Homo sapiens: one gene and its partners. The main gene of each other region encodes a partner of the protein of the gene in region 3 in a complex. Each region holds a gene or a part of one and is shown on either strand. Other genes may lie near its edges.

What was found.
Region 1: STRN4 (region 3) and STRIP1 share a complex: the UniProt entries of both Homo sapiens proteins name them as parts of the core of STRIPAK complex.
Region 2: STRN4 (region 3) and STK25 share a complex: the UniProt entries of both Homo sapiens proteins name them as parts of the core of STRIPAK complex.
Region 4: STRN4 (region 3) and STRIP2 share a complex: the UniProt entries of both Homo sapiens proteins name them as parts of the core of STRIPAK complex.

What each region holds. Positions count from the first base shown.
Region 1 is NC_000001.11:110,050,767-110,055,141, reverse strand, and holds the end of STRIP1 (striatin-interacting protein 1), read right to left. Parts: intron 4,187-4,375; coding exon 4,082-4,186; intron 3,460-4,081; coding exon 3,255-3,459; intron 1,478-3,254; coding exon 1,230-1,477; 3' UTR 501-1,229; downstream 1-500. UniProt on the Homo sapiens protein: Plays a role in the regulation of cell morphology and cytoskeletal organization. Required in the cortical actin filament dynamics and cell shape. Part of the striatin-interacting phosphatase and kinase (STRIPAK) complexes.
Region 2 is NC_000002.12:241,498,370-241,506,226, reverse strand, and holds part of STK25 (serine/threonine-protein kinase 25), read left to right. Parts: intron 1-4,518; coding exon 4,519-4,749; intron 4,750-5,430; coding exon 5,431-5,487; intron 5,488-5,945; coding exon 5,946-6,054; intron 6,055-6,812; coding exon 6,813-6,970; intron 6,971-7,052; coding exon 7,053-7,238; intron 7,239-7,442; coding exon 7,443-7,588; intron 7,589-7,857. UniProt on the Homo sapiens protein: Oxidant stress-activated serine/threonine kinase that may play a role in the response to environmental stress.
Region 3 is NC_000019.10:46,743,179-46,751,798, reverse strand, and holds the start of STRN4 (striatin-4), read left to right. Parts: upstream 1-5,348; 5' UTR 5,349-5,368; coding exon 5,369-5,650; intron 5,651-5,708; exon of another isoform or gene 5,709-5,742; intron 5,743-7,014; exon of another isoform or gene 7,015-7,039; intron 7,040-8,620. UniProt on the Homo sapiens protein: Calmodulin-binding scaffolding protein which is the center of the striatin-interacting phosphatase and kinase (STRIPAK) complexes.
Region 4 is NC_000007.14:129,451,366-129,459,222, forward strand, and holds part of STRIP2 (striatin-interacting protein 2), read left to right. Parts: intron 1-247; coding exon 248-382; intron 383-754; exon of another isoform or gene 755-851; intron 852-1,861; coding exon 1,862-1,982; intron 1,983-2,776; coding exon 2,777-2,845; intron 2,846-3,055; coding exon 3,056-3,162; intron 3,163-3,878; coding exon 3,879-4,006; intron 4,007-5,073; coding exon 5,074-5,277; intron 5,278-5,334; exon of another isoform or gene 5,335-5,647; intron 5,648-6,457; exon of another isoform or gene 6,458-6,717; coding exon of another isoform or gene 6,718-6,849; coding exon 6,850-7,085; intron 7,086-7,346; coding exon 7,347-7,412; intron 7,413-7,857. UniProt on the Homo sapiens protein: Plays a role in the regulation of cell morphology and cytoskeletal organization. Required in the control of cell shape. Calmodulin-binding scaffolding protein which is the center of the striatin-interacting phosphatase and kinase (STRIPAK) complexes.

The DNA of each region.
Region 1 (4,375 bases), on a different chromosome or scaffold from region 3:
ACAGGGGGCTCCTGGGCCCTCCAACACTTTTTCCCACCGTGAACCTGACTCCTGATGGTCTGCTTCCTAGGCTCTGAGTACTGAAGTTTCCCCTCAGTCCCAACCACCTGCCCCAGGGAGGACCTAGAGCAGCAGACCCCCTTGCTTTGACCTAGCCCCTCCCTCCATAGCACTGACACTGGTTTGGCTGAGGCCAGCTCAGTGATGTGATCCAGAGAAACCTGGGGCTCCTACTGAAATTACAGCAAACCCAGGGGTGCAGGACAATGTGTCAGTAAAGTAACCTAGTGCCCTGGAGTTGGGCTAGAGCAATCCCAGATTACTGTGGGGTTAACTTACACTGGATAAATGCCAACTCTCTCTCCTCTTCCCCCAGGATGGGAAAGGCAGGCAGCTTGACAAGGACAAGCGTTGACCAGCAATGCTAGCAGAAAAAACCACTTTCTAGACCTGGAGGAGATACGTAGAGGCCATATTTCCTGTAGACAAGCCAACGGGAATTATTTTTGCTTCTTTTTAATGTAAACAGAATACACAATCACATTAAAAACCCCAACATGACACAGAATACACACAGAATTATATATAGATATTTACAGGCCCTCGAAAGCCAAAAGGAAAAATGGCCCCTCTGGTTAAGGGAAGCTTCTCTTCCTACCTTGTCCCTGTCCAAAATCAAAGTGCTGAGGCAGCTGAAGGAGCCTCCGCAATTACTTCTGGATATAATGTAGCAGGAGGCTGGAATAACATCAGAAACACCCCACCCCCACCCCAGAGCACAACCAAGATACCGACTTTCTGGCCCTGGCCCTAATCCTAAACTCTCCTCCTTTGCAAGCTGACAAAGCAAGGATTTGTATGTCTCGAGAGGCATCAGCATGACCCCTGAAATTCAGATGCACGGCGGAGGGGTTCCCATCCCATTCCAGCTTTCCCAGCCTTGGGCTGATTGTGAAATGAGCCAAAACCAACCATATCCAAGAGAGGAGGGTGGGGGAAGTAAAGGAAGAATGGATCTCAGGCAGAGATGACTGCTTCGGAGCAGGACCCTGGGAACCAAGGGGAGGTCAAGCTGGGCTCACCCAAGCCCAGGACAGACTGCGGAAGACACAGTGGGGCTGTGCTGCCACCTGGTGGGGGATGGGAGCACTGCAGCAATGAACTAGGACAGTCCCACAGGTACCTTCAGATCATCTTTTCTCTCCATTTCAGTCCCCTAACCAACAGCCTCACTGCAGCAGCTCTTCCCAGGAAATGGGCTTGGAGAAGACCTCCCTTTCTAACCAGAGGTCATAGTTCATCTGAAAGTCCTCAGGGAGGTCCACCCGTTGGCCCAGGACACTCTGCAGGCAGTTGTCCACTGGCAGGAAGTCAGGGTTGCTGTGGGCCCGGTCATAGCGCCGGGCGTTGAAGCGTTCAATGTTGGCACGAAGGGCACACTCCTCTGCCTGGAAGTCCCAAGGCCGGGCATCAAGATCTGAGACAAAGCAGGAAGAAACACCGTTAGGAGCCATGCCCTGTAGCAGCTCCCCATGGATTCACTGGCCAGGAATATTGAGTGTCAACTAAGAGCAGGATACCTCCGAGCTCATCCTCAGAAAGATGCCAGGAATTCCTTCCTAGATCCAAAGGAGAGTCAAGTACAAGCAGAAAAGCCAGAGGTACTGAGAAAGAGGCTTATACTGTAGGGATTATGTAGACCCAGAGAGGGAGAACCATGTGTACAACACATTTCTCTCAAAGTGGCATTCTCCCTGGCTCTCTGGGGTCAGAGGGAGGAACCTGGAGATCTTCTCCTTTGCTCATTCTCTCTCAACTCCCCAACCAGGTACCGTGTGCCACTGTGGGCCTGCACACATTCACAGGGCATTGAGAGTACAGACACAGTCATTCAGCCATGGTGGTATATTCCAGAAACGCAACAACGCAGCAACACGCACACACAGAGCAGCCCAGGTGGGCAGGGGAGACACACTGTGGGCGAAAGAAGAGTGCCTGCAGAGGCCTAGTAGTGGGAACCACACGGCTATGTTCAGGGACTGAGCACTCCCTGTGCCTGGAGCTCTGGGTATGATGGAGGCTGGACTGACAGCCCGTAACAAGGTTGAAAAGGAAGCTGGGTCAGATTACAGAGGAGGAGAATGAAAAAGGACGAGGGAGCCTCACATGCCCTGCCTGAGTCTGAATCTAATTCTAAGGGAAATAGGAAGCTAATGAAGGATTTTACTCAGGGAGGTAACAGCACAGGATCTGCATGTTGAAAAGATTCACTAGGGGGCCGGGCGCAGTGGCTCACGCTTGTAATCCCAACACTCTGGGAGGCCGAGGCTGGTGGATCGCTTGAACCCAGGAGTTCAAGAACCCCCTGAGAAGGCTGGGCACAGTGGATCATGCCTGTAATCCCAGCACTTTGGGAGGCCGAGGTGGGTGCATCTCTTGAGGCCAGGAACTCGAGGCCAGCCTGGCTAACACAGTGAAACCCCATCTCTACAAAAAATACAAAAATTAGCTGGACATGGTGGCGTGCAGCTGTAGTCCCAGCTACTTGGGAGGCTGAGGGGGGAGAATCGCTTAAACCTGGGGGGCAGAGGTTGCAGTGAGCTGAGACTGTGCCACTGCAATCCAGCCTGGGCGACAGAATCTCTGTCTCAAAAGAAAAAAAAGACCACCCTGGGAAACATGGTGAAACCCTGTCTCTATAAAAAAGATACAATTAGGTGGGCACAGTGGCATGTGCCTGTGGTTCCAGCTACTCAGGAGGCTAAGGCAGGAGGATAGTTTGAGCCCAGGAGGCAGATGTTGTGGTGAGCCAGGATCGCACTCTAGCCTGGGCAACAGAGCGAGACCCTATCTTTAAAAAACATCAAAGTAAAAAAGGATCACTAGGGAAATCTGAGACACTGATGGAGGGGAAGAAATTAGAGGCAGGGAAGTCAGTCAAGAGCTGTAAGAGTTTAGGTGGCCAAAATGGGGATGAAAAGAGGGGACACAGTCTTATGACAATTTCTAGAAAAGGAATGACTTGGAGGTACAAGGAGAGATGGGGATGATCGCAGATGCCAAGGCTGGGTAGCTTCTCAAAGTCCTTCCTAGAGTGCCCATCCTGATGCTACAAAAGCAGGAGCTGGGCTCCTTCCTGTTCCTTGGGGGGAAGCTCAGGGCAGAGAAGTACCTGAGTACCACGGGCAGGGAGTGAAAGATGTCACTTTTCCCGACACACTCCCACCCAAATCTGGCTGAGTGCAGAGTCTCACCATTGCCGTATGCCCAGTCGTCGTTCAGCCGATGCCGCACCTTCTGGTAGATGGCAGACATGGTCTTCATGTTGCTCTTTCGCCACTGCCGCCCCAAGTATTTGGTCTGTACCTTGAGCAGCTTCAGCACATAGAGCTGCATCATGGCTTGTTTCACCTTTAGGGCCCGCTTCAAGATGGGGGCTGACTTGAACACCACCAGCATCTGGGAAGGGAAACAAGCAAGCAGCCCAAGTTGAAGACAAAAATAAATGCATACATCCCAGGTCACACTGCTGCTTAACCCTTTGGAAGTTACTGTCAGGGTGACAAACCATCCCAGTTTCCCTTGGACTGAAGAGTTTCCTGATACATAGGACTTTAAATGCTAAAACCAGTAGAGTTCCAGACAAACCAGGATGGTTGGTCACCCTAACTATGTGTCACTTTGGAATCTGAAGAAAGCTATGGATTCCTTCCAGAAACATTCCGGTGTACATGTACACACAGTTATCAGAGGATTCAAGGACCTCCCCACCCCAAAGGCATCCACAGACCCAGAGTTAAGGAAGATTCTCAGAACCCTGATTATGTTACCAATCAAGATTAAGACGACATGGAAAAAGTTCTTCTATAAATGTAGATTTGTTTCAGTGCATGACTGGGCCTCTTCCAGCTTCCAGTTCAATTCATCAAGGAACTGGGAATTGGCCCTTAAAATGCAAGGATACGGCTACAGCAAAGTTAAGTGAGAAGGCACAGTGAGCCCCACCCTGGGGACTCCCTGCTCCCAGCACTCTTCTTTGAGCTCCAAGTTCCAAGCCTGCTGACTACACTGACTCACTTACCATTGTCCTTGAATGCTTCCACTTTGTCAGCTTGTTCAAGATCCGAAGCAGATTGATACAAGAAAAGAGGTTCCTCCAGCAAAATTGGTTACTGTCACCTGCTTCCTGCAGGGTAAACCCAGGAACAATCAGCCCTCATGGCTGCAGTGTGTGCAGCAGTTTCCAAAAGTCCCTCACACATGATCTCAGGACAGCCGGGTCTCCAGGCCTCTACCAGGAATCCCCTGCTCTCAGAGCAGCCCCAGGACTCCATCCCAGAAGCTGGCAGGGGACTAGGGGAAGAGGGAGGCTCCC
Region 2 (7,857 bases), on a different chromosome or scaffold from region 3:
TCCTGAGATGGTTGCCATGGTGTCCTGTGGACCTGTGGGGCAGCCCCTTTGTGGGAGAGTGGGGCGCGTTCCCCCCATAGCCTGTGCTCCTGCCTTAGACTTCTCCCCTCTACCTGGCCAGTTCCTGCCTGGCCCTGGAGGGCCCGAATGGCTGTGGGGTGCCAGAGCACTGTATCACCACTCAGCTATGTGTGCTGGGTCATTCCCCTTGTTTTGTGGGGCAACACTGACAGCAGACACATTGGCAAGTGGAGGCCCCAGACCTGGCAGCCCCAGGGCTAATGTGGAGAACAGGTGTCCACCGCTCGAGTCAGCTGAGTGGCCCGAGTGATCATCCAGGCCACAGCTGCTGCTACATCCAAAAGAGGATTCGCAGCCTCCAGGCCAGGGGCCCACTTACCCTTTCTTCTCCAGGTGGGGGTGGGGATGGCTTGCCTTGGCTTGGCCTGCGATGTCATTGTAGGGCCAGGATCACAGCCAAGAGGGTTCCTGTCACACAGTTTCTGCTTGGGCTGATGAGCCCTGGCTCTGGCTTAGGGGTCCGCTGTGCTCCCCTGCTGTGAAGCAGTAGAGGTCTGAGTGCCCACCCAGGGGTTTCCCTACCGGGGCTGCTGTGATGGAGCAGATTCAGCTCCAGGCCCTGTGTGGAGAGCAGCATGGCCTCAGCAGGGAGCAGGGAGTAGAGCAGGGCGGGAGGACGCGTCATCCAGAGAGGCCTGAAGAGTCGGAGGGGTGGTGGTGCTGGGTAATGCTGCCAGGTCATGGCCCTGCTTTCTCCAGGCCCTCTCTCAGGCCACCTTAGACAGGAGTAGATGGGAGGACACAAGCTCAGGGCACCAACAGACCTCTGGAATCCCCAGGAGGACTCCCTTGGGGTCTTTCCGGGTGCTTGGGCAGGGTTGGGTTGAGGCTGAGGCCAGGCCTACAGGCTAACGGCTCGGTGGAGCAGCGTCCCAGGGCCCCGAGTAAGCGTTGATGGGCTGAGCAAACAGGGAGGATTTGACAAGGTGGCGTTGGGCCTGCTGGAGGAGGAGCAGGCAGAAGAGGGGCTGCTTCTGCAGATCACCTGAGGTCAGGAGTTCGAGACTAGCCTGGCCAACATGGTGAAACCCTGTCTCTACAAAAATTCAAAAAAAAAAAAAATTAACGGGGCATGATGGCGGGTGCCTGTAAGTCCGGCTACTCGGGAGGCTGAGGTGGAAGAATCGCTTGAACCTGGGAGGCGGAGGTTGCAGTGAGCCGAGATCACGCCACTGCACTCCAGCCTGGGCAACAGAGTGAGACTCTATCTCAAAAAAAAAAAGAAAAAGAAGAGGGGCTGCTTCTTAACCTTGTCCTGCACCTGGCATCCAGGACTGGGCTAGGAACGGGTGGTCCTCCACCAGAAATGGAGCAAACAGGGAGGAGGAAACGGAGATGATGCTCTCTATGGCAGGAGGGTGATATTTTAACACTGACTGCTTACCTATGACAGCCAGTGGGCTGATGAGCTTATGCTTTGACATGCACTTGTGGGCCCAGCTACTCAGGAGGCTGAGGAGACCAGCCTGGGCACACAGCGAGACCCCCCATCTCAAAAAAAGATTGCATGTTCTGGGTTGACTTTCCTTTCAGATAGGGGCTGGTTCTCACCTCATCTGTGCCACCCACCCTCAACCCGGAGACAGCTGAGCACCTGTGACTTGTCAGCTTTGAATTTTTCCTGGCTTCTCTTTAGAACACATGGTCAGCAGCAGTGATGGGGCTGGGGGCAGACACAGCTCACCTTGACCGGAATGACCCCAGGCAGTACTCAGCTCTCTCTATCCTGCCGAGTTTCTTGACCTTGGCTTTGGGGACTCCTGGTAGCAGGTGGGCTCAAGGCACCCCCTGCTGTTTCCTCCATGGGTACTGGCTTTAGGACTGGGCTGCTGTACTGATGAGAGAATGAGAAAGGTCACTTTTGACTCGACCAGCTGTCTCAACTGGCCAGACCTTTGGGCTAAGCAAGGGTCTGTGTGTACACTGCAGCTGGCCTGCTCTAGCTGCTGCATGGAGGCCACCTGCACACCCCCGGGCCTTGACAAGCCAGCCTTGCAGGGAAAGGTTAGGTGGCCTCTGGCCCTCCCCTAACTGCCTTTCCTTCCCCAGAGTTCCAGTCACCTCGAGGTCTGGCACTCAAAAAGGGATGTGCAGCGGCATGTTTCAAGGTGGGGGCCTGTGTGCCGCCCCTTCCACCCTCCTGGTTAGGAACCCTGGGAGGTCAGCTAATTGGCAGTTTCACACGGAAGTGTCGCCTCAGGCTGGTGCGATGTCCAGTTGGCTTCAGCCAGCTCCTCCGCTGGGCTTAGGCCTGGGGTGGACCCAGCACACAGGTGTCCAGGGGGTGAGTGTGAGGGCTGTGTGTGGTGTACCCCATCCTTCTTGGTGGGCACGGTCTCCGCAGGCCCAGGAACGTGCAGGGCACCCCCACCCAAGGACCTGTCCTGTCTTCAGTGTTTTTTTTTGTGGCATAATTAGTCGTTTTGCCTTTTTTTTTTTTTTTTTTTTTGAGACGGAGTCTTGCTCTGTCGCCCAGGCTGGAGTGCAGTGGCACGATCTCCGCCTCCTGGGTTCATGATATTATCCTGCCTCAGCCTCCCGAGTAGCTGGGACTGCAGGCGCCCACCACCACACCCGGCTAATTTTTTGTATTTTTTAGTAGAGACGGGGTTTCACCATGTTAGCCAGGGTGGTCTTGATCTCCTGACCTCGTGATCTGCCCGCCTCGGCCTCCCAAAGTGTTGGGATTACAGGCGTGAACCACCGCGCCCAGGCTGTTTTGCCTTTTTATGCTCTGCCACACTAAATTGGCATCAAGACCCTTGATGTTGTTAGGGGAGGGGCCGTGCGTGGTGGCTCACGCCTGTAATCCCAGCACTTTGGGAGGCTGAGATGGGCAGATCACCTGAAGTCAGGAGTTCGAGACCAGCCTGGCCAACATGGTGAAACCTTATCTCTACTAAAAATACAAAAAATTAACTGGGAGTGGTGGTGCATGCCTGTAATTCCAGCTACTTGGGAGGCTGAGGCAGAAGAATCGCTTGAACCCAGGAGGCAGAGGTTGCAGTGAGCCAAGATTGCACCACTACACTCCAGCCTGGGTGACAGAGTGAGAAGCCATCTCAAAAACATTTAAAAAAGGGTCGAGGCTTGAGGACACACCTCTGCTGGCTTCCCCTGGACTCTGGGCCTGGGCCACAGACCCCAGGCACCTTCCACACCACTGGCTCAGAAACTTTTAGGCATTGCTTCTTTAAATCTGAGGACTGTGTGAGGCAGCTTTCTGCATCAAGAAAGCATCAAGTTTCTAACTCCGCGCTGGTGTAGCTGTCAGGAGGACTTATGGAGGGGTGAGGGAAGCCCTTTCTAAATACGTGACTTTCAGGAGTGGAGGAGAACTTGGTTAACACATACTGAGGTTTTTTGTTTTTGATGAGGTTTTTTTTTTTAAATTTTTTATTTTTTTGAGACCTAGTTTCGCTCTTGTTGCCCAGGCTGGAGTGCGATGGTGCGATCTCGGCTCACCGCAACCTCCGCTTCCCTGATTCAAGTGATTCTTCTGTCTTGGACTCTCAAGTAGCTCGGATCACAGGCATACGCAACCTCGCCCGGCTAATTTTTTTTGTATTCAGTAGAGATGGGGTTTTACCATGTTAGTCAGGCTGGTTGCGAACTCCTGACTTCAGGTGATCAACCCGCCTTGGCCTCCCAGAGTGCTGGGATTTCAGGTGTGCACCACCAAGCCTGGCCTGATGAGTTTATTTTTTAGTAATTTCAGATTTATAACAAATTAAGTAAGAGCTCCCAAATCCCCCCTCACCCCCAGGGGCCATTCACCTATTAACATCTGTCACGGGGCTGGCATGTTGTTCGGGTTAGATGAGGCAACCTTCATGCCGTGTCATCACCTAAAGCTCCTGTTTCCAGCAGGGTTCATCGAGTTGGCCTGGCCTCTTTATACTTTCTGGGGACTTTTTCCCTTGCATGGAAAGTTCAGTTTAGGTTTTTTTGTTGTTGTTATTTGTTTGTTTGTTTGTTTTTTTAATGGAGTTTGATTCTTGTTGCCCAGGTTGGAGTGCAATGGTGCGGTCTTGGCTCACTGCAACCTCCGCCTCCCGGGTTCAAGCAATTCTCCTGCCTCAGCCTCCTGAGTAGCTGGGATTACAGGCATGAGCCGCCACGCCCAGATAATTTTTTTGTATTAGAGATGGGGTTTCACCATGCTGGCCAGGCTGGTCTCGAACTCCTGACCTCAAGTGATCCACCTGCCTCGGCCTCCCAAAGTGCTAGAATTACAGGCGTGAGCCACCACGCCCGGCCAAGTTTAGTTTTTGAACAAAAAGGGAGAAAGGAAGAAACCAGAGAAGAATTGAGGTGCGCTCCCTTGGACTCCCCCTTCCCTACAGGTCCCTTCCTCCCCAGCAGGGCAGCCTCTGCCTGTCCCCCGCCTCTTGTGACCGGCGCTGTCTGCCCTCTGTCCCCGCCCTGGCCCCACAGCACTCTCGAGTGGACCCTGAGGAGCTCTTCACCAAGCTCGACCGCATTGGCAAGGGCTCGTTTGGGGAGGTCTACAAGGGCATCGATAACCACACAAAGGAGGTGGTGGCCATCAAGATCATCGACCTGGAGGAGGCCGAGGATGAGATCGAGGACATCCAGCAGGAGATCACTGTCCTCAGTCAGTGCGACAGCCCCTACATCACCCGCTACTTTGGCTCCTACCTAAAGGTGCCTGTTGTGGGGAGGCGGGGACCCTGCTGGTGCTGTGCCCGGCTCTCTTCCATGTCAGAGGGACTGAGTGACATGCCAGAGGGTGCAAGGCGGTCTTGACGGTTCAGTGCATGCCCTCCGGGAAACTGCCCTGGGCAGGCAGGGTGTGAGCCCTCGTCCACGAGGGTCAGTTGGCTCTAAATGGCCATTGGGACCCACTTGCCTGCCTGTGGTAATGCAGTGAGGGCGCTGCTAGGAGCACTCTGGGGGGCCCCTACTGGCAGTGGTGAGTGGGCCTGTGAGGAGCAGGTGGCTGGTGGTGCCAGTGTCTGGGGTGTAGGGAACGCTGTGGCCATCCTGCCCAGGAGGGTGATGGGTGTGTCGGGTCACATGCTTGCCAGCCATGCCCTCTTCCCAGCCCTGTAGGACTGGATCAGCAGCCTGGTTTTTGATGGGGTCTTGGTGAAGTGGAGTCAGCCACTGCTGTGTGTACTCAACCTGTCCTCTGAGCATCTGTAGCAGTAGTGTGGCAGGAGGGGAAGATGGGCAAGGCCGAGAGAGCCCTTTCCTGTTCAGGGTTCTTGGCAGGGATGGGACCGGTGGGGCCTGGGCCCTGGCTGACTCCGGCCTGTGACTCCCACCCTGGAGCATGCCCTTCCTCTTGCTGCCAAATGCTGATGGGTTTGTCTCCGGTCCCAGAGCACCAAGCTATGGATCATCATGGAGTACCTGGGCGGCGGCTCAGCACTGGACTTGGTGAGGCATAGGCCATGGCAGTGGGGGGTCATGCAGTGTCCGAGTCCCCTGCCCCTCAGACTCATGGGCTCCAGGGGCCACCTCTCGTTTGGTGTCATGGCACGTTAGGTGTTAATTAGGAATCGTCTAAAGCAAAAATGAACTGCCATCTGCACGTCTGCCCAGTTGGTGCTGAAAGGGGTCCTGGCCTGTGGGAGTGGGCGGGGGCAGGCCTGCTGGGAGATGGCTGGGAGCCTATTTTTCTGTTACATGACAGTAAGGTGAGGCTGGTTTATATGCTTTAGAAAGAGCCTCCACCACCCCACTCCCATCTGAAACTTAGTTCTGTTTGGGAAGTAAAGGAACACGAAGCCCCCAGCTATCTGCAGGGACAGCCCTTCCCTGTGAGAGAGGCAGAGAACTCAGGCATTGGGCCTGGGACAGGAGCTGAGGCCCTGCTGTCGCACCTTCCTCTCCAGCTTAAACCAGGTCCCCTGGAGGAGACATACATTGCCACGATCCTGCGGGAGATTCTGAAGGGCCTGGATTATCTGCACTCCGAACGCAAGATCCACCGAGACATCAAAGGTCCTGCTGGGGGTGGATGTGGCTCTTGTAACGTCCTGAGCCCCACTGACCTTAGAGAGGCCGGGGCCTGTGAGGGGCAAGTGGCTAGTGGTGCCCAGGGTCTGGAGTATAGAGAACCTTGTGGCCACCCTGAAACTGAGCAGTCCTGTCTCGCTCCCTTTCCAGAAGATACTACTTGTAACGGTTTCCTTGTACGCTGAGGAAACCAGCTGTGGACTGAGTGTAGGAAAGGGCCACACTTGGCTGGAGTTGTTGGTTCCCTGTGGTGCACGGCACAGCAGCAGGTGTAGAATTGAGTAGCCCCAGCGTGTGGTCTGGCCCTGCTGAGAGCAGACGGGAGGCTGGGCCAGCCCATGGGGAGGGACTTGCCACTGGCAACGAGCCATCTCTGTCATGTAGGGGACGATTCTGGTGGAGCAGGGGGCTTCCTGGCAGGCCCGTGTTGGCTACACCCTTGGTCAGGGTCACCTCTGCGGTAGCCCCCAGTGGGCGAAGTCGCTTGTCGTTGGGATTTGTCGTAAAAGCCAAATGCAGGAAGAGCCCTGGAGCTCGGAGTGGAGCCGTTGGGCTCCTGCTGGCAGTGCCCCTGTGGCCCTAGGTGGCCCTGGGTTTGAGAGTGGCAAGGAGGGCTGAGGTCCTGAGGACAGCCCTGCTGTGCCCTAGGAGGCCAGGTGGATGGTACCCTGGCCCTTCTCAGGGGGCCCGGGGTGGAGCCACGTGGAGCCTGGGATGACGCCTGCCTGTCCTGTGTCAAGCAGCTGCCAACGTGCTACTCTCGGAGCAGGGTGACGTGAAGCTGGCGGACTTTGGGGTAGCAGGGCAGCTCACAGACACGCAGATTAAGAGGAACACATTCGTGGGCACCCCCTTCTGGATGGCACCTGAGGTCATCAAGCAGTCGGCCTACGACTTCAAGGTGGGTGCAGCGGGCGGGCAGGTGCGGGCACCATGCCTGGCTCGGGTGCTCAGGGCAGCAACAGTCCTTGTGTTCTGTCCAGGCTGACATCTGGTCCCTGGGGATCACAGCCATCGAGCTGGCCAAGGGGGAGCCTCCAAACTCTGACCTCCACCCCATGCGCGTCCTGTTCCTGATTCCCAAGAACAGCCCACCCACACTGGAGGGCCAGCACAGCAAGCCCTTCAAGGAGTTCGTGGAGGCCTGCCTCAACAAAGACCCCCGATTCGTAAGGCCCGCCTCTGGCCCGGTCCCTTCTAGACAGGACGTGGAGGGAGGGCGTTCGCTTGGGGTGGGCGGCACAGCCCGGAGGCCCAGGCCCACCAGCCTTGTAGCTGTGAGGGCCCGCCCCGGTCCAGGCTGCCTCACGTTTGCTTCCCTTAGGCAGAGCTTGGCTGGGCCCAGTGACTAGTGTTCCCCTGACCCCCTGCAGCGGCCCACGGCCAAGGAGCTCCTGAAGCACAAGTTCATCACACGCTACACCAAGAAGACCTCCTTCCTCACGGAGCTCATCGACCGCTATAAGCGCTGGAAGTCAGAGGGGCATGGCGAGGAGTCCAGCTCTGAGGACTCTGACATGTAGGGACCTGGTTTATCCTCATGGTGACCCTAGGTGCTGTGACGTGGGTGGTCCCCACTCCAGAAGCAGGGGCGTGGGCCCTGGGGGTGAGGGTGACCAGATATAGTGTTGGGCAGGGACCCCCTCAAGGCTGCAGGACAGGGCCTGCTGAGGCATCAGCTGGACCCCGTGGCCTGGCAGAGCCCCGTCTGGTACCTCGGGTTTCCCTTGGCCGTGAGGTGTGCCCTGAGGCCCTCATGCCTCCTGGCCCTCTCCCCACTGGCCCTGG
Region 3 (8,620 bases):
GGTCAGGAGTTCAAGACCAGCCTGGCCAACATGGTGAAACCCCATCTCTACTAAAAATACAAAAAATTAGCCAGGCGCGGTGGCGGGCGCCTGTAGTCCCAGCTACTCGGGAGGCTGAGGCAGGAGAATGGCGTGAACCCGGGAAGCGGAGCTTGCAGTGAGCCGAGATTGTGCCACTGCAGTCCGCAGTCCGGCCTGGGCGACAGAGCAAGACTCCGTCTCAAAAAAAAAAAAAAAAAAAAATACAAAAAAGTTAGCTGGGCATGGTGACAGGCGCCTGTAATCCCAGCTACTTGGGAGGCTGAGGCAGGAGAATTGCTTGAACCCAGGAGGCAGAGGCTGCAGTGAGCTGAGACCATGCCATTGTACTCCAGCCTGGGCAACAACAACAAAACTCTGTCTCAAAATAAGTAAATAAACAAAAAAATGCATCTTGGCCAGGTGCAGTGGCTCACACCTGTAATTCCAGCACTTTGGGAGATTGAGGTAGGCAGATCGCTTGAGACCAGGAGTTTCAGATCAGCCTGGACAACATAGTAAGATGCCATCTCTACAAAAAATAAACAAAACTAACTGGATGTGATGGCTTGCACCTGTAGTCCCAGTTACTTAGGAGGCTGAGGTAGGAGGATCACTTGAGCTGGGGAAGTCAAGGGTGCAGTGAGCTGTGATGGCGCCACTGCACTCCAGCCTGGGCAATAGAGCGAGACCTTGTCTGTCTTTAAAAAAAAAAAAAAAGCATCTCCCATGTACTTCCTATCCCCCATTCCTGCTTTATTTTGCTCCCCTAGTAGTTATCACGTGGATTTTACTTAGCTTGTTTGTTGTCAGAATCTCCATGGAAGGCAGGGAATCTGTTTTCTTCCCTACTGTATCCCCAGAGCACAGCTCAGTGCTTGGTGCATAGCAGGTGCTCAATAAATACGTGTTGAATGAATGAGTGACTTGAATTATTAAGATAAGGAACGTGGGCTGGGTATGGGGGCTCACTCCTGTAATCCTAGCACTATGGGAAGCTGAGGCAGGAGGATCGCTTGAGCTCAGGAGTTCAACACCAGCCTGGGCAATATAGCAAAACCCCGTCTCTAAAAAAATACAAAAATCAGCCAGGCGTGGTGGTGCCTACCTGTGGTCTCAGCTACTTAGGAGGGAGGCTGAGGCAGGAGGGTCCCTTGAGCCCAGGAGGTGGAGGCTGCAGTGAGCTGTGATTCAGCCACTGCACTCCAGCCTGGGCGACAGAGCGAGACCCAGTCTCAAAAACGAAAGATAGGAACCTCTGGCTCAGAGAGATAAGAAGGATGCAGGGTCGAGAACCGAGGTCTCCGCTTCTGAGGCCCTGGCTCTTGCCACACTGTCTGACTGACTCTGGGCCAGGAAGGAGGTGCCCAGCAGGGCAGAGGACAGCAGCCAGGTCCTGGCTACCCTCAGGCCCAGCACAACTCTTGGCCCTCGCAGACCAGACACCAGCAGATTTGATGGCCAGATGAAGAGGTGCCACCTGCTGGTGAGGGTGTGAGGGAACCTGAGGCGGGGAAAGGAATCATCTAGTACCCTGATAAAGCCATGCAGACTTCACCGCCTCTAAGGGCAACAAACCCCTTCGTTGGGGCAAAGTGGATACAATGATGATTTTGAAGGTCTGAATGTTCTACATTTTTCTGAATCGGGAGGATAATAATAACAATTCTAGCAGCTCACCATGTGCCAGGCCCTGTTCTAAGCACTTTAGGCATATTCACTTGTTTAATCCTCGTGTTATGATCACATTTAAAAATGGAAACCAGCCGATGTGGTGGCTCATGCCTGTAATCCCAGCACTTTGGGAGGATGAGGCTGGGGGAGATTGCTTGAGCCTGGGAGTTTGAGACCAGCATGGACTGGTAAGACCCCGTCTCTACAAAAAAATTTAAAAAATTAGCCGGGCATGGTGGTGTGCACCTGTAGTCCCAGCTACTCTGGTGGCTGAAGTGGTAGGATTACTTGAGTCTAGGAGGCAGAGGTTGCAGTGAGTTGAGATTGTGCCACTGCACTCCAGCCTGGGTGACAGAGCCAGACTCTTTTTTTTTTTTTTTTTTGAGACGGAGTCTCGCTTTGTCACCAGGCTAGAGTGCTGTGGCACAATCTCGGCTCGCTGCAACCTCCAACTCCCTGGTTCAAGGGATTCCCCTGCCTCCGCCTCCTGAGTAGCTGGGATTACAGGCATGCGCCACCATGCCCGGCTAATTTTTGTATTTTTAGTAGAGATGGGGTTTCACTATGTTGGCCAGGATGGTCTCAATCTCCTGACCTCGTGATCCGCCCGCCTCAGCCTCCCAAAGTGCTGGGATTACAGGCGTGAGCCACCGCGCCTGGCCTCGAGACCTTATCTCAAAAAAAAAAAAAAAAAAAAAGGAAACAAAGGCACAGAGAGTTAAAGAGTTAAAGTCTCTTATTCAAGGTCACACAATGTGAAGTAGTGGACCCAAGAGTTGATCCAAGAAGCTGGCTACAGAGTCGTACTTTAAACCAGTAAACTTTACCTTCTCTCTTGGGTTCTTTCTGAAGCCCCAACTCTCAGCCCATCTTTAGTGAGCCTTCCCCAGCCCTAACCTGACAGGGGCTTTCAAAGCTTGGCTATGGCACATTAATAAATTAATTCAACTCAGTAACTCAACAAACTCAAGTATTCTTTGTGGTGGACCCCATGTTTTGAGGATACAGAATGAACGAGGTACTCATTAGGTCAGCCCTCCAGAAGACAGAAAGAAGACTGACAGGGCCACGTGTGGTGGCTCACACCTGTAATCTCAGTACTTTGGGAGGCCCAGGCGGTCAGATCACCTGAGGTCAGGAGTTAGAGACCAGCGTGGGCAATATGGTGAAACCCCCTCTCTACCAAAAAATACAAAGATTAGCTGGGCATGGTGGTGCGCACCTGTAATCCCAGCTATTGGGGAGGCTGAGGTGTGAGAATCACTTGAACTCAGGAGGCGGAGGTTGCAGTGAGCCGAGATTGCTCCACTTCACTCTAGCCTGGGTGAGACCCTGTCTCAAAACAAACAAACAAACAAAAAAAAGACGGACAAAAGCCATGCAACTTACAGACAGGGCAGGAAACCAGCAGGGGGCGCAAGAGTAGAAACAGGGGGCTTGCCTTAGAAATGGTAGTCAGAGGGGACAGTTACTCTGAGAGTTTACTTGTCTCTCCAGTCCCCACAAAACAAGGTAAATGAATCCAAATTCTCTTCAGGCCTTGGGTTCACTGGGTCTGAGTTGCGATTTGGCCTGAGCCTCAGTCCCTGCACCTGTGGAATGGGAATGTGACGGTTAGAAAAAAATGAGAGGGCTGGGCGCGGTGGCTCACGCCTGTAATTCTAGCATTCTGGGAGGCCGAGGCGGGCGGATCACGAGGTCAGAAGTTCGAGACCAGCCTGCCAACAAGGTGAAACCCCATCTCTATTAAAAATACAAAAAATTAGCCGGGCGTGGTGGCAGGTGCCTGTAATCCCAGCTACTCGGGAGGCTGAGGCAGGAGAATCGCTTGAACCAGGGAGGTGGAGGTTGCAGTGAGCCATGACCGCGCCACTGCATTTCAGCCCGGGCAACAGAGCGACACTCCGTCTCAAAAAAGAAAGAAAGAAAAAGAAAAAAATGAGAGACATGGGAAAGCCTTAAGGAATGAGGAAGGGCAGTTTCCATGAGAGTGTAGGTGACACTGAGGGACTTCTTACCTCCTAGGTTGTAGGCTGGGGGAGTTCCAGGAGGGCAGTTCCAGCCCAGCTGAGCTGCGCTCCTGAGAGGAGGAGAACCAGAAAATCCCAAATCAGCCATTTCCGTACAATAGAGCACAATTTCATCTTATCCACAAAAGTGGCAAGAGAAAGGTCAGGGAATCCTTTCTCTTGAAGTCCTATAATCTCGGGCACCACCTGGGGTGTCTCAGGAGTGGGGTGGGGTGAATGGGAGGGATGTCAGTTATTATAGCAACCTATAACCATCCCTCTAGCATGAATGTGTCCAGAAAAGGTAGGGCTAGAAGCCAACAGAAGCTGTTACCATGACAACCCCTTCCATAGACACACTCTACCTCTGAGAGACATTCTTAAAACATCCCCTGGCCGGGCGTGATGGCTCACACCTGTAATCCCAGCACTTTGGGAGGCCGAGGCGGGCCTGAGGCAGATCACCTGAGGTCGGGAGTTCAAGACCAGCGTGACCAACATGGAGAAACCCCGTCTTTACTAAAAATAAAAAAAAAATTAGCCGGGCGTGGTGGCGCATGCCTGTAATCCCAGCTACTTGGGAGGGTGAGGCAGGAGAACGGCTTGAACCGGGGAGGCGGAGGTTGTGGTGAGCCGAGATTGGGCCATTGCATCCCAGCCTGGGCAACAAGAGTTACACTCTGTCTCAAAAAAAAAAAAAAAAAAAAAAATCCCCTCCTTTGTTGGGCTTGGTTCCTAGGGTCACTCGAAGGGGGCTGCTCTATTATCATAGTAACCAGGCCTTGAACTTGCCTGTTTCTCACCTTCCGGAGGAAGGTCCAGGCCCTGTAACCATAGCAACTGCCCCTCAGCAGAGCATCTCCTCTAAATAAAAACACCTGGTTAGTTTGGTGCATGGGCCTCCCACGATGGGAAGGGGAAGACGGTTACCATGGTAATGCCAACTAGGTGGCTATGGGGGAGGGGCTGGGGAAGAGGTGCTTCTCTTAGAGATCAGTGTCCTTGGGGCTGGGGTCCTTTCTACCTGAATGCTAGGTGGGGGGGAGGTTGCCATAGTAATCAATGAGGATAGGAGCAGAAGGACCACCACGGACACTTAGGTTACCTTAGCAACCTTCTCCTGGTGCAGAGTCCTAAGAGGTTTGGGGCTCCATAACCACAAAGGTGGAAGCGAGGGGAAGGCTGCTCCCCACCACCTCGCCCCCACCGCTGGGGAAGGGTTACCATGACAACCAACCTGGCCGGCAATCAGAGAGGATGGGGCCACTGCTGGTCGCCCTTTCTCTCAGAGTAAAAGTAATTGTCCAGGAGAGTGGTGTTTGGGTGTGGAAGGGGTAAGGCTCTTTCTCTGGGGCGAAGTGGGAGGAGGGGGGCAGAAAGCGGCCCCTTCCTCAGTCTCACTCCAGCGAGGGGGACCGTCGCGCGGGGCCTGGGTCTCCCTCGCCCTCCTCGGGGCGCGATCTCCCACCCGCCGGCCCCCGCGCGGGCACGCTACCCTTCGGTGTAGACCCGGGTGGGCGAGGCTCGCGCTCGCCGCCGGCCCCCCTTCCTACTGTCCCCCGCCGGGCGCGCGCGCGGTGGTTGCGGCGGGGGAGGGGGGGGGGTGTTGGCGCGGCCGCGCAGGCGCGCGAGGCACAGCGGGCGCGCAGGCCGGCCCCGGGGCCTCCATGATGGAGGAGCGAGCGGCCGCCGCGGTCGCCGCCGCCGCCTCCTCCTGCCGTCCGCTCGGCTCAGGCGCGGGCCCTGGCCCCACTGGGGCGGCCCCGGTCTCCGCCCCTGCCCCCGGGCCGGGCCCGGCAGGTAAGGGAGGCGGCGGCGGAGGCAGCCCCGGGCCCACGGCGGGCCCGGAGCCCCTGAGCCTGCCGGGGATCCTGCACTTTATCCAGCACGAGTGGGCGCGCTTCGAAGCCGAGAAAGCCCGCTGGGAGGCCGAGCGCGCCGAGTTACAGGTGAGCGCTGTCCCGGGACCCCCGACCCCCAACCCGGCCCGGCCCGGCCCGGCCTCACCCGCTGCCGCCGCCGCCGCCATCTTGGAGCAATGGCCGCCGGGACGGCCGGCGGGGGGGCGGGAGGGGACCGCGACGGTCCCGGAGGGCGAGTGAGGGGCCGTCCGAGGGGTGTCCTGAGGGCACTCCGGGGTGGGACGGGACCGGGACGGCCCGAGGTGGGAGTGGAGGGACCGGGGGTGGGAGGGATCACCGGGACCGGCCGAGAGAAAGGGGCGGAGGGACCACAACCAGCTGGGAGTGGGACTGGGACTGGGACTGAGCACGCTGGCCGCGGGGCTCCTGAGAGAGGCGACTCGAGCCCTGGAGGGGAGGCTAAGAGAACTCGGGAAAGGGTGTGGAGAGGAGCTGGAGGGGTCTGGGAGACCTGAGTGGTCTCCTGTGGGAGTAAGCAGAAGCTTGCCGGGCGCCGAGGGACTCCCGACCCCGACCCCGACCATGGCCCTAGCCAGGTGCAGGTTGGAGGTGGGAGCGTCCAAGGGGGGAACTTGGGACCCGCTGGGAAAGAGCGGGTCCAGATGGGGAACCGGGAGGATTTAGGGAGAGGAAGTCGGGAACCTGGGATCGGTGTGTTTCGGGGCGACTGGACGGTGGGCACGGAAGGAGGGCTGTGTAAGGACCCGAGGGGTGGGAGGAGGGTTTCAAGGGGTCCAGGATGAAGGTGTGTGCCTTCCCCTCTGAGGAGAAACTTTGGGGATCCCGGGCATGTGTGGCTGCACAGTGCAGGGAAGGGTTCTTTGGAGTGGAAGTGTGGACAGAGCAGGGAATGTACCCTAGGAGCCTGGATGGGAGAGCTTAAGAGTGGAAGTTCCACTTTGGGGGTGTGCAGGAGTGGGCGCGATGGCACTGAGATGGCACGTGTGTTGTAGGATGTAGGTAGAGAGCCCTGAACTGGAGTGTGGGGTGTTGGGCATGTCCAGTATGGAGGTGAGGGTCCTGGGATGGTGCCAATGAGGACGAGTTAGGGGTTACCCTGGGGTGATGCTTTAGGGGGGAGAATTTTGTAGAGCCCGAAGGCAACATGAGGAGGCATCTCGGAACGGGGGTAGACTGGGGTTGGGGGGAAGGGGATATGTTTGTGGAAGTCTTGGGAAAAGACCCCGTGGTTTTTGGGGTAGCTTGGGACAGGGATGTTGAATGGAAGAGTCTGAGGAGTTGGGCTAGGGTTTGTGACCTCGTGGAGCGTCAGGTCCATTGGCAGTGACTGGAGGACCATGGAGATGTCCGGATTTGAAGGGATCAGGAATGGCCCGCTGGAAGTCTGAAGATTCTTGGACTGGGTTATTATTAGCAGAAATTGTCATTACCTGCTTGTAGCAGCCCACCTTTCCCCTTCCGATTTGCCGTTTGCTATCTAGTAGGAAGCTGGTACCCAAATAAATAGCTGATGAGAATTGTGTCGGTAGGGATGGGGTGCGGTGGCTCACGCCTGTAATCCCAACACTTGGGGAGGTTGAGGTGGGAGAATCCCTTGAGCCCAGGAGTTCGAGGCCAGCCTGGCCAACATAGCAAGACCTCATCTCTACAAAAAAGTACAAAAATTAGCCGGGTGTGGTGACATGCGCCTGTAGTCCCAGCTACTCAGGAGGCTGAGGTGGGAGGATTGCTTAAACCCCGGAGGTTGAGGCTGCGGTGAGCCATGATTGCACCACTGCACTCCAGCCTGGGCAAAAGAGTGAGATCCTGTCTCAAAAAAAAGCATTTTGTTCATAGGATGAGTAAAGACCCTCCAGTAACTCTCCCCCTGCCCTCACTTGTGGTGGCTGAGGCTTGGGGCTGGGATGGGAGCAGAATCCTTATGTAACTGCTCTCACTTCTGTCCCACTCTCTACTTCCGAAGCTCTTTCCCAGCATACATCTCATCAGATCTTCACAATGCCCTGTGATGTAGGCAGAGGCAGTGTCATTACCTCACTCAGCAATAACGGTACCAGCTGCAATTTAGTGAGCACATACCATGTCTGGGGCGCTGTATCAAGTACTGTAGATACGAGCTGTCATTTAATTCTTGCAGCATTCTGGGAGGATAAAGGATATTCCCCCTACCTTTAAAAAAAATCAGGAGAGGAAATGGAGGTTTTGAGAGGGTGATTTATCTAGGATCCCAGCAGATGAGCAGAAGGGCTGGTCTGTGGTGGACCTTTTGTTTATTTATTTATTTATTTATTTATTTTTATTTTTATTTTTTTGAGACAGAGTCTCACTCTGTCACCCAGGGTGGAGTGCAGTGGCATGATCTTGGCTCATTGCAACCACTGCCTCCCAGGTTCAAGCGATTCTCCTGCCTCAGCCTCGCAAGTAGCTGGGATTACAGGTGTGCACCACCACCACGCCTGGCTGATTTTTGTATTTTTAGTAGAGATGGGGTTTTGCCACGTTGGTCAGGCTGGTTTCGAACTCCTGGCCTCAAGAGATCCACCTGCCTCGGCCTCCCAAAGTGCTGGGATTACAGGCATAAGCCACCATGCCCGACCGTCGGTAGACTTTTAAGCCCATGTTCTGTACCTCTCTGCTACCCAGTACAGTTGAGAAAATTGGTTCAGGCAAGCATAGTGGCCTCCCCAGGGTCACCCAAGCAGTCATAGCAGAGCTTGGACTGAATCTTGGCCTCTGGGACTTTGCACCAGTGCACCGCACAGCACCCACCACACCATCTTCTCATCCTGGAGGCTGATGAGAGAAAAGATGTTTATCCCCTCACTTACTGACCCTTCTTGGAGTTTGAGAGGAACTTGTGTCTGGCATGGTACCAGCACTGTCACTTTGTACTTTTGTTTTCTTTTATTCTGTTAAGTTAGTAAAAATTCAGACATCTCAGAGGGGTGTGTGTGTGTGTGTGAGTGTGTGTATACACATATATATGTAAGTGAAAAAGGAAAGTTCCTTCTCTTCGTCCCTTTCCTGCTCTTCTCT
Region 4 (7,857 bases), on a different chromosome or scaffold from region 3:
ACAGGACAGTATGGGCTGTGTGTGGAGGACAGAGGGGATGTTGAAGGTGAGGCTATAGACTGGGTTCAGGCCAGAACATTTTGGGTCCTTTTCCCATACCTTATTCTTTCTCAGTGAAATAAGGAAAGCTTTTGGAGAAAATAATTTTGGCAGGGGAGCTGAGATCAGAGGTGGATATGCTATGAGGAGCCTTTCCAGGAAGGGTGGCAATAGCTGACACTGGATGTATATGGCCTTTTATTCCCAGTGCAGGGCAAGGAATGGCTGGAGTTGGAAGAAGATGCCCAAAAGGCCTATATAATGGGACTCTTGGACCGGCTAGAGGTGGTCAGTAGGGAACGGCGGCTGAAGGTGGCCCGGGCTGTTCTCTACCTGGCCCAAGGTGAGTGACCACCCTTGCTAGCTTTAGAGGGGTGGAGGCTTGAGAGGGAAGTGGGCATTATCAGGACTGAGATGACGCAGGCTGTGCTGGGAAAGCAAGGTTTCTTGCCTCTCAAGGACAGATCTTGTCATGTGCTAGGAGTAACCTGTGCTTATGAGGAAGATGAGATAGTGTTGAGTGCTGTTCTAGATCCCTCGGGATCTGCCTTTATCTTACCAGGTATGTCAGAATTTTTTATAGGGTTCTTCTTTTCCCTACCCTGTACTATAATCATATGTGAATACTAGCAAGAGGTGTGGCCAGAGCTGATATGTACCACCAGCTGATCATGGAGACAAGACATCAACTGTGGCCTGGCCCCAAAACTGAGGAGAAATAGGAGAGTGTCACAGATACACATGGACCCCTTGCATTGTTTCTCATTGGCATTTTGAAAGTTCAAGCCAACATAACTGCGGGAGTGGATGCTGTGAGTAATTTGGAGATGATCAGAACTAAATAGAGTAATTGGGGAAAGCTGCTCAGAAGAAACCTGTTAGCCAGGTGTTGGAAAGGGAAATGAGATAGCCTAGCTGGAGTGAAAATAAGCCTACGATCATAAATATAAGGCGTGTTAACAGAACCAACCAGTTGGGAGCTAAAAAAAAAATTGTAAAATAAAAAAATAATAAATGAAGAGGGGAAAGGGTGGACATTAGGTGAAGAGAAGACTAGCAAATAGGACTGTGCCCTCCTGTATCTCTTGGGTCTGGTGCTCTGGCCAACTTCCAACTGCCAGTACCTTCATATGTTTGCCCAAGGACTTTATTTATCTAAGTTTTTTAAAAGAAAGTCTCACTGTGTTTCCCTGGCTGGTCTTGAACTCATAGGCTCGAGCTATCCTCCTGCTCCAGCCTCCTAAGTAGCTAGGATTATAGGCATGTGCCACCATGCTCAGCTTCTGCTCAAGGGCCTTCTCTGCAGCCCATACAGGGCATCCAGGAAGTGTAGGGAATCAGTGTGCTCCTTTAGTTTAGCACCCTCATCCAATGACTAACAGGAGTTAGTGGATGGATAGCCTGACTGTCTCACCCCTCTTGGATAGAATAACTGTGAGTTGTGTGTTTTATACTGTTTCCAAATTATCCCCTGAGTGAACTCTTTGGGCTTCCTTTTCTTCCCTATCTCTACTGATGATTCCTGGGAATGATTCCCAAATAAGCTACTTGCACTGGAATCCTTACTTACCTCAGGATCTGCTTCTGGGAGAACTCACCCTTAAGACGATAGGCCATTGATGAGCACATTGGACCTAACCCTGGAGACTACCTCTCCTCTCCCCTGACTCATTCCAGGAAGTTCTTGGGGCCCCTGTCATACCTATGTCAGCCTAATTATTAGGCAGAGTATTATAGGAAAATCTTAAGATCATGGGGCAGGGTGGAAAGAACTGGGATACTGCCACCCCTCAACCCCTGTAACAACTGTCTGGTCCTTTAGGTACTTTTGGGGAATGTGATTCAGAGGTCGATGTGCTACACTGGTCCAGGTACAACTGCTTCCTGCTGTATCAGATGGGGACCTTCTCCACCTTCCTGGAGCTACTCCACATGGAAATTGAGTGAGAAGCCTTAGGGGAAGGGCTGGCCTACATAACCCCCATTCCTTAAAGGGGCCTCATGTTCTATGCTGCTTCCCTCACTATAGAGACCCCCTGTGAGGAACTGGGTCTACTCACACCTCAGCCCAAAGCTCATTGACAGTTCCCCTCCATCCAGCCATGTTCTCTGATATTCTGTTCTCCCTCCCTGAGGTTGGATACATCTGCAGCTTCTGCCTCACTTACAGCTTTAATCCTGGGCTTCAGGGGCCTATCCTGAGTGGGTTCTCTTTTTATTCAAGGACTTTCTTAGCTCAGCCTAACTCTGGAATTCAAGAGGGAAACTATTTTGAATGCATGACCCAAGAAAGACAGGAAATCAATTCCTGTCATTGTGCCCAATTCTTTCCCTCATGGGCTATAGTTCTAGAGGTGGCCTTATTTGCTGCTACCACTACAGTGACCCCTTGTTTTGTCTCATGCCCATCACCCAGGAGTTTGAGATAGGGTGCAATCTGCTTATTATTCATCAGGTGTTTCTTAGCATCTGTTTTATGTCCAGCACAGTTCTAAGCATAGTGGGGAATGCAAGAGGAGTGGATACCACAGATCCTGCCCTTGCCTTGTCTTCACCATAGATGAGAGTTTGCTGAGGTGGCAGGGGAATTCTGTCAGCTCCTTTACTCTAGACCAGTTTCATTAGTGGCTGCCTAGCCAGGGAATGGCAAGCACTCATATTTGTGTGAGTGATAAGTAAGAGCACAGAGAGAAAAGAAGTCTTATGCATTCCTGTTCTTTTTCTCCTCCCCTGGCAGCAACAGCCAGGCCTGTAGCAGTGCCCTTCGGAAACCAGCTGTCTCCATAGCTGATAGCACAGAGCTCAGGTGAGTGGGGCTAACTATGGGCTTGGAACAGGGCAGATGATTAGCACCTGGGTTACCTTTTCCCCAAATCCCAGATGACTCAGACCATTAGGAAGTTGCCCTGTAGCTAATCTCACTGGGTTGGGCTTCCCACAGAGACCATCTCTGAGGTCTGTGACTATGGGCTGGGAATTGCCTTGGGAACCTCTTGTGACTCTTCTGTAACCCCAGGGTGCTGCTGAGTGTTATGTACCTAATGGTGGAAAATATTCGCCTGGAGCGAGAGACAGACCCCTGTGGGTGGAGAACAGCCCGGGAGACCTTCCGCACTGAATTAAGTAAGAAATGGCACTTGAGGAAGGTGTGGATGGGGTGCTAATGGGAGAGGGGAAGCAGAGCATCTGCCTAGGAGAGGCAGACAGTCGTTTTTTCTTTTGTTTTCTTTTTTAAAATTAATGTCCTTTCTTTTAGGACACAGATACTGCATGGCAGGCACAAGGGCTGGGCTTGATTGCCGCCCTGTATCTATGAGCTAAGACCAGCCATGTAACTTCTCTATGCCTTGGTTTCCTTGGTTATAAGTGGGGATAGCCATTCCTCTCCCACTCTATCACGAGTCCCACATGAAAAAATGAGTTGAATCACCTTGAAAACTGAGTTCTGTTCAAATGTAAGTTGGTGTTGTCATCTGACAGGGATAGGATATGAAGGACTATGGGATTTTAAAAATATATTTATTGATGTGGAAAAGTGAATGACATTGAGTCCTTTAGCCAGAAAGCAATGTCTTCATTATTGTTACTTCTAGTTTGGCATCCAACCCCAAAGCGTCACCCTAAGCTCTGGGGCCTATGCCATTTTAATTCCATGGCGTCCCTTCCTGCCCTTGAGGGGCTTCCTTCTGGGGGCTAAGCCTCCTTCTCAGGACCAAGTACTCTGGTATTCTTCAGGGGAGGTGAGTGCCTTCCTGTGTGTGTCCAGAATCAGGGTTACATGAAAAAGGTTTTAGCTGCCTCATCCTCACTTTCTCACTCCCCTCTCTCCTCACCCCTAGGCTTCTCCATGCATAATGAGGAGCCTTTTGCCCTTTTACTCTTCTCCATGGTTACCAAGTTCTGCAGTGGCCTGGCTCCTCACTTCCCCATAAAGAAGGTCCTGCTCCTGCTCTGGAAGGTGGTCATGGTGAGTAATTCTCCCCACTCCCACATTATCAGATCAGCAATGCCCTATGCCACCTCAGTTTCTTCTAGTCTCATTCCAGGAGGCTGGATCCAGGGAGCAGAACAGGCAGCCCTTAGCCAACTGCTAATATGGAGGGGCAACAAGGCTGTCCTAGAGACATCAGATGTTCTATGTTAGAATGGGTTTCATGTTTCTATTGGATGGATGGGAGATGCCACTCCATAAATTGGGGATGTCAGTGGTACCTTCTCTTATTAAAGCCAATGTTTGATGGAGAGAACACTGGTTGAAAGTTGGTAGATCTGGGCTTTGCTGATACTGAGAAACTTTGGGCAACTCTCTGTGCCTCAATTTCTCTAGCTGTAAAAGGTTGGGGTGAGTGCCTGCCCTCCCTCCAGATAAACAGAGGTTTTGTATTTTTTTTTTAATAAAAATAATTTTTTCTTACAGACAGGCCTCCCTGTGTTGCCTGGGCTGGTCTTGAACTCCTGGTCTCAAGCAATCCTTTCACCTTGGCTTCCCAAAATGTTGGGATTACAGGCATGAGCCATTGTGCCTGGCCAGGATTTGCTTTTTAAAAAATAATGAAGTTCTTATAAATATGTGGTTACATTTCTGTTACTAGTTATTCAACCTGATCCTTCATTTTTGGCTCCCATCTCACAAGGCAGGCCTAATAGGGGGAACTGCCTCTTGACTGCAGAGGAAATTGAGTGACTCTGGGGGTTTATAGCACCTGGATGGTGTTCCTTAAAAAAGTCGATAGTTTCTTTTTTTTCTTTTTTTTTTTTTTTGAGGAGGCCCGCAGGAATTCCTTTCCTAAATTCTGTGATATTTCCCATACTGGGGCAGTAAATAATGCCTTATCCTGACCCCTGAGCTCCTCAGTTGCCGTGGGGATGGTAATCATATTTGCCTCTTTATGTTTTACTACCTCCTTATTAAGGAAAAGGTCTGAAGGGACTGGAGGTTGTGGCCCTTTCTTTTCATCCATGTTTCCCTGACCTTGGCTCTCTCTTACTTCCCTTCCTTCCTCTCTCTCTGCCCCTTTCCTGTTTCTTCCTTAGTTTACCCTCGGTGGATTTGAGCATCTGCAGACTCTCAAAGTACAGAAGCGGGCAGAATTGGGCCTGCCTCCACTGGCTGAAGACAGTATCCAGGTGGTGAAGAGCATGCGTGCTGCCTCCCCGCCCTCTTACACTCTTGACCTGGGAGAGTCTCAGCTGGCACCCCCACCCTCCAAGCTGCGAGGCCGCCGTGGCTCTCGAAGGGTATGGACTGAAGCAGACAATGGTATTGGGACACCGACTGGCCAAAAATCAAGATTCTAAGTTACTCTGGGTGTGGTAGGAAAAAGCAGTAAATGACCCGGCTCATCCTGCCCAGGTTGGCCCTATGACCAACCTGAAATCTTAGGGTCTCTAGTTTGGCCTCTGTCCCCCAGCCCTGACAGCCCCCTGCGCTGTTGTGATGTGACACTGTGATATCATGTCATATATAGCCATGTCTTGCTACAGAATCATTGGCCTGGACCTCAGTGCCTGGAGTTCCTTACATTCTGAATAACAATTAAGGGTATAATCCTGGGGATAGGGACCCAGGATACCGGAACAGGTCTCCAAGCAAATCCATTTTTCTGGGGTAAGGCATTTTACTATTTTGAAGCACCAGGAAGTTTTACTGTCAGCCAGCCACACTCTTAACTGGCCCTGGAACCAAAGGCTTACATTTAAGAGATGACTGGGTAGGGGTCTATGTATATAACCATGTGACACTAAACGACAGGGATACAATCTGAAAAATGTGTCATTATGCAATTTTGTCACTGAGCAAACATCATAGAGTGTACTTACACAAACCCAGATGGTATAGCCTACTGCACACCTAGGCATATAGCCTATTGTTCCTAGACTACAAACCTGTACAGCAGGTTACTATACCGAACACCATATGCAATTGTAACCCAATGGTGTTTGTGTATCTCAACCTAGAAAAGGCCAATAAAAATACAGTATTATAATCTTATGGGTCCACAATTACATATGCAGTCCATTGTTGACTGAAGCATCGTTGTGCAGCACATGACTATAGTCTGCTGTCCTGAAAAGGTCAGAATGAAAAGTTATACTGAGATCTGACTATGTTCTTACAAACTCCCCTGCCTGACCCACTTCAGTTTATCAACAGGGCTAGATAGTAGTGCTCAGTAATCCAGTCTCCATTATCTGCAATAAAATTTTTTAACTTTATTTTTGTTTTATAAAGTAATGCTTACTCATTGTAGAAAATTTGGAACAAATATAAAAATGTGATGAAGGGAGAAAAGAAAAATCACCCACAATCTTAACAACCAGAGACAGTCACTGTTAACTTTTTGGCCTATTTCTGTCCAATCTTTTTTTCTTTGTCACAAGATTTAAAATTCCAAACTTGCTTCCCTCTGCCTAGCAGCAAGCTTCTGTCCTCCTCTTCCTCAGTCAGCCAGCTGGTGTATGCTCACAGAAGGCAAACTAATTGAATGTTCACCTAAGCAGAGCATAATTAGGAAGGAAAGTGCTGGCAAAAAAAGGCATCACTGCTTTCTGAAAGCTAAGTAATTGTGACTTTGGGATTATCTATGCTATGTTCCCTGGCTAATGGCAGGGTTACCTGAGAACTTCTTGTCCTGTTATTGGGCCGGGTGGGGACAGTAGGTTAAGGTGGGGAATTGGATGTTTTCGCAAGGGCTGTGTTCAGATTCCATGTTCCCTGAAATGTGGAGGCCTGTGGATATGGGGTGGCCTCAGACAAGGATGCCCAGAGTGAGATCTCTGCATGCCTACCCTCCCTTCTTTCCCCTCCAGCAACTCCTCACTAAGCAGGACAGCCTGGACATCTACAATGAAAGGGATCTCTTCAAGACTGAGGAGCCCGCCACAGAGGAGGAAGAGGAGTCTGCTGGTGATGGAGAACGAACCTTGGATGGAGAGCTAGACCTGCTAGAGCAGGACCCTCTGGTGCCACCTCCACCCTCACAGGCACCCCTCTCTGCTGAGCGGGTGGCTTTTCCCAAGGGCCTGCCCTGGGCCCCAAAGGTCAGGTAGGTTTGATAGCATCAGGGACCCCTATGCTTCGGGGTTTCAGTCTCCAAAGGCCCAAGATGGGGTAGTCTATGTATTCAAGGCTCGTTAAGTTGGTCTGGCAGTCAGAACTCCTGGGTTTGAAATTCCTTCTGTTGATTGCTGCCTTTTTCCACTGCTCCAGTCCTCTGATTGGAGGGATAGGAGCCCGGAAAGTTTTTCTCTCTCAAAGTTTGCTTTTCTTCCCTTCTCTGGGATTGGTCTTTCCACCATCCTCTCAGACAGAAGGACATTGAGCACTTCTTGGAGATGAGCAGGAACAAGTTCATCGGATTCACCCTGGGGCAGTAAGTGACTGAATGGCTGGAACTGGCTACAGAGTGGTTCCTAGGGGGCCAGAGGAGCAGGTAGCTTGGAATGAGGGATGGTGCCTGGTGGTCATAATGTAACCTAGAGCCCCTAGGCCATGGACAACTCCCAGTGACTACTTTGGGTTCTTTCTATGGATTTCTTTTTTCCTTGAGTTTCTTCCACTTTTCCTCAAAGAACTTTTGTGTTTTTAGCCAACTGTAGGACTTTGAGCAACAAGTCATTTCTCTTTCGGGCTTAATTTTTTCCTGAGGTTGTTGGGTTAGATGGTTTCTGTGGGCCCTTCCTGCTCTAATGGGCTAAAATTCTGTGAACAAGAGACATGGTCAGAACGGATCCAGTCTTCCCCCATTCCCCAGCCTCATGAATCCTTCCCACTGGCCTCTTGAAAATTGAGTCCTTATTAGTGGAGTTTCATAGTCA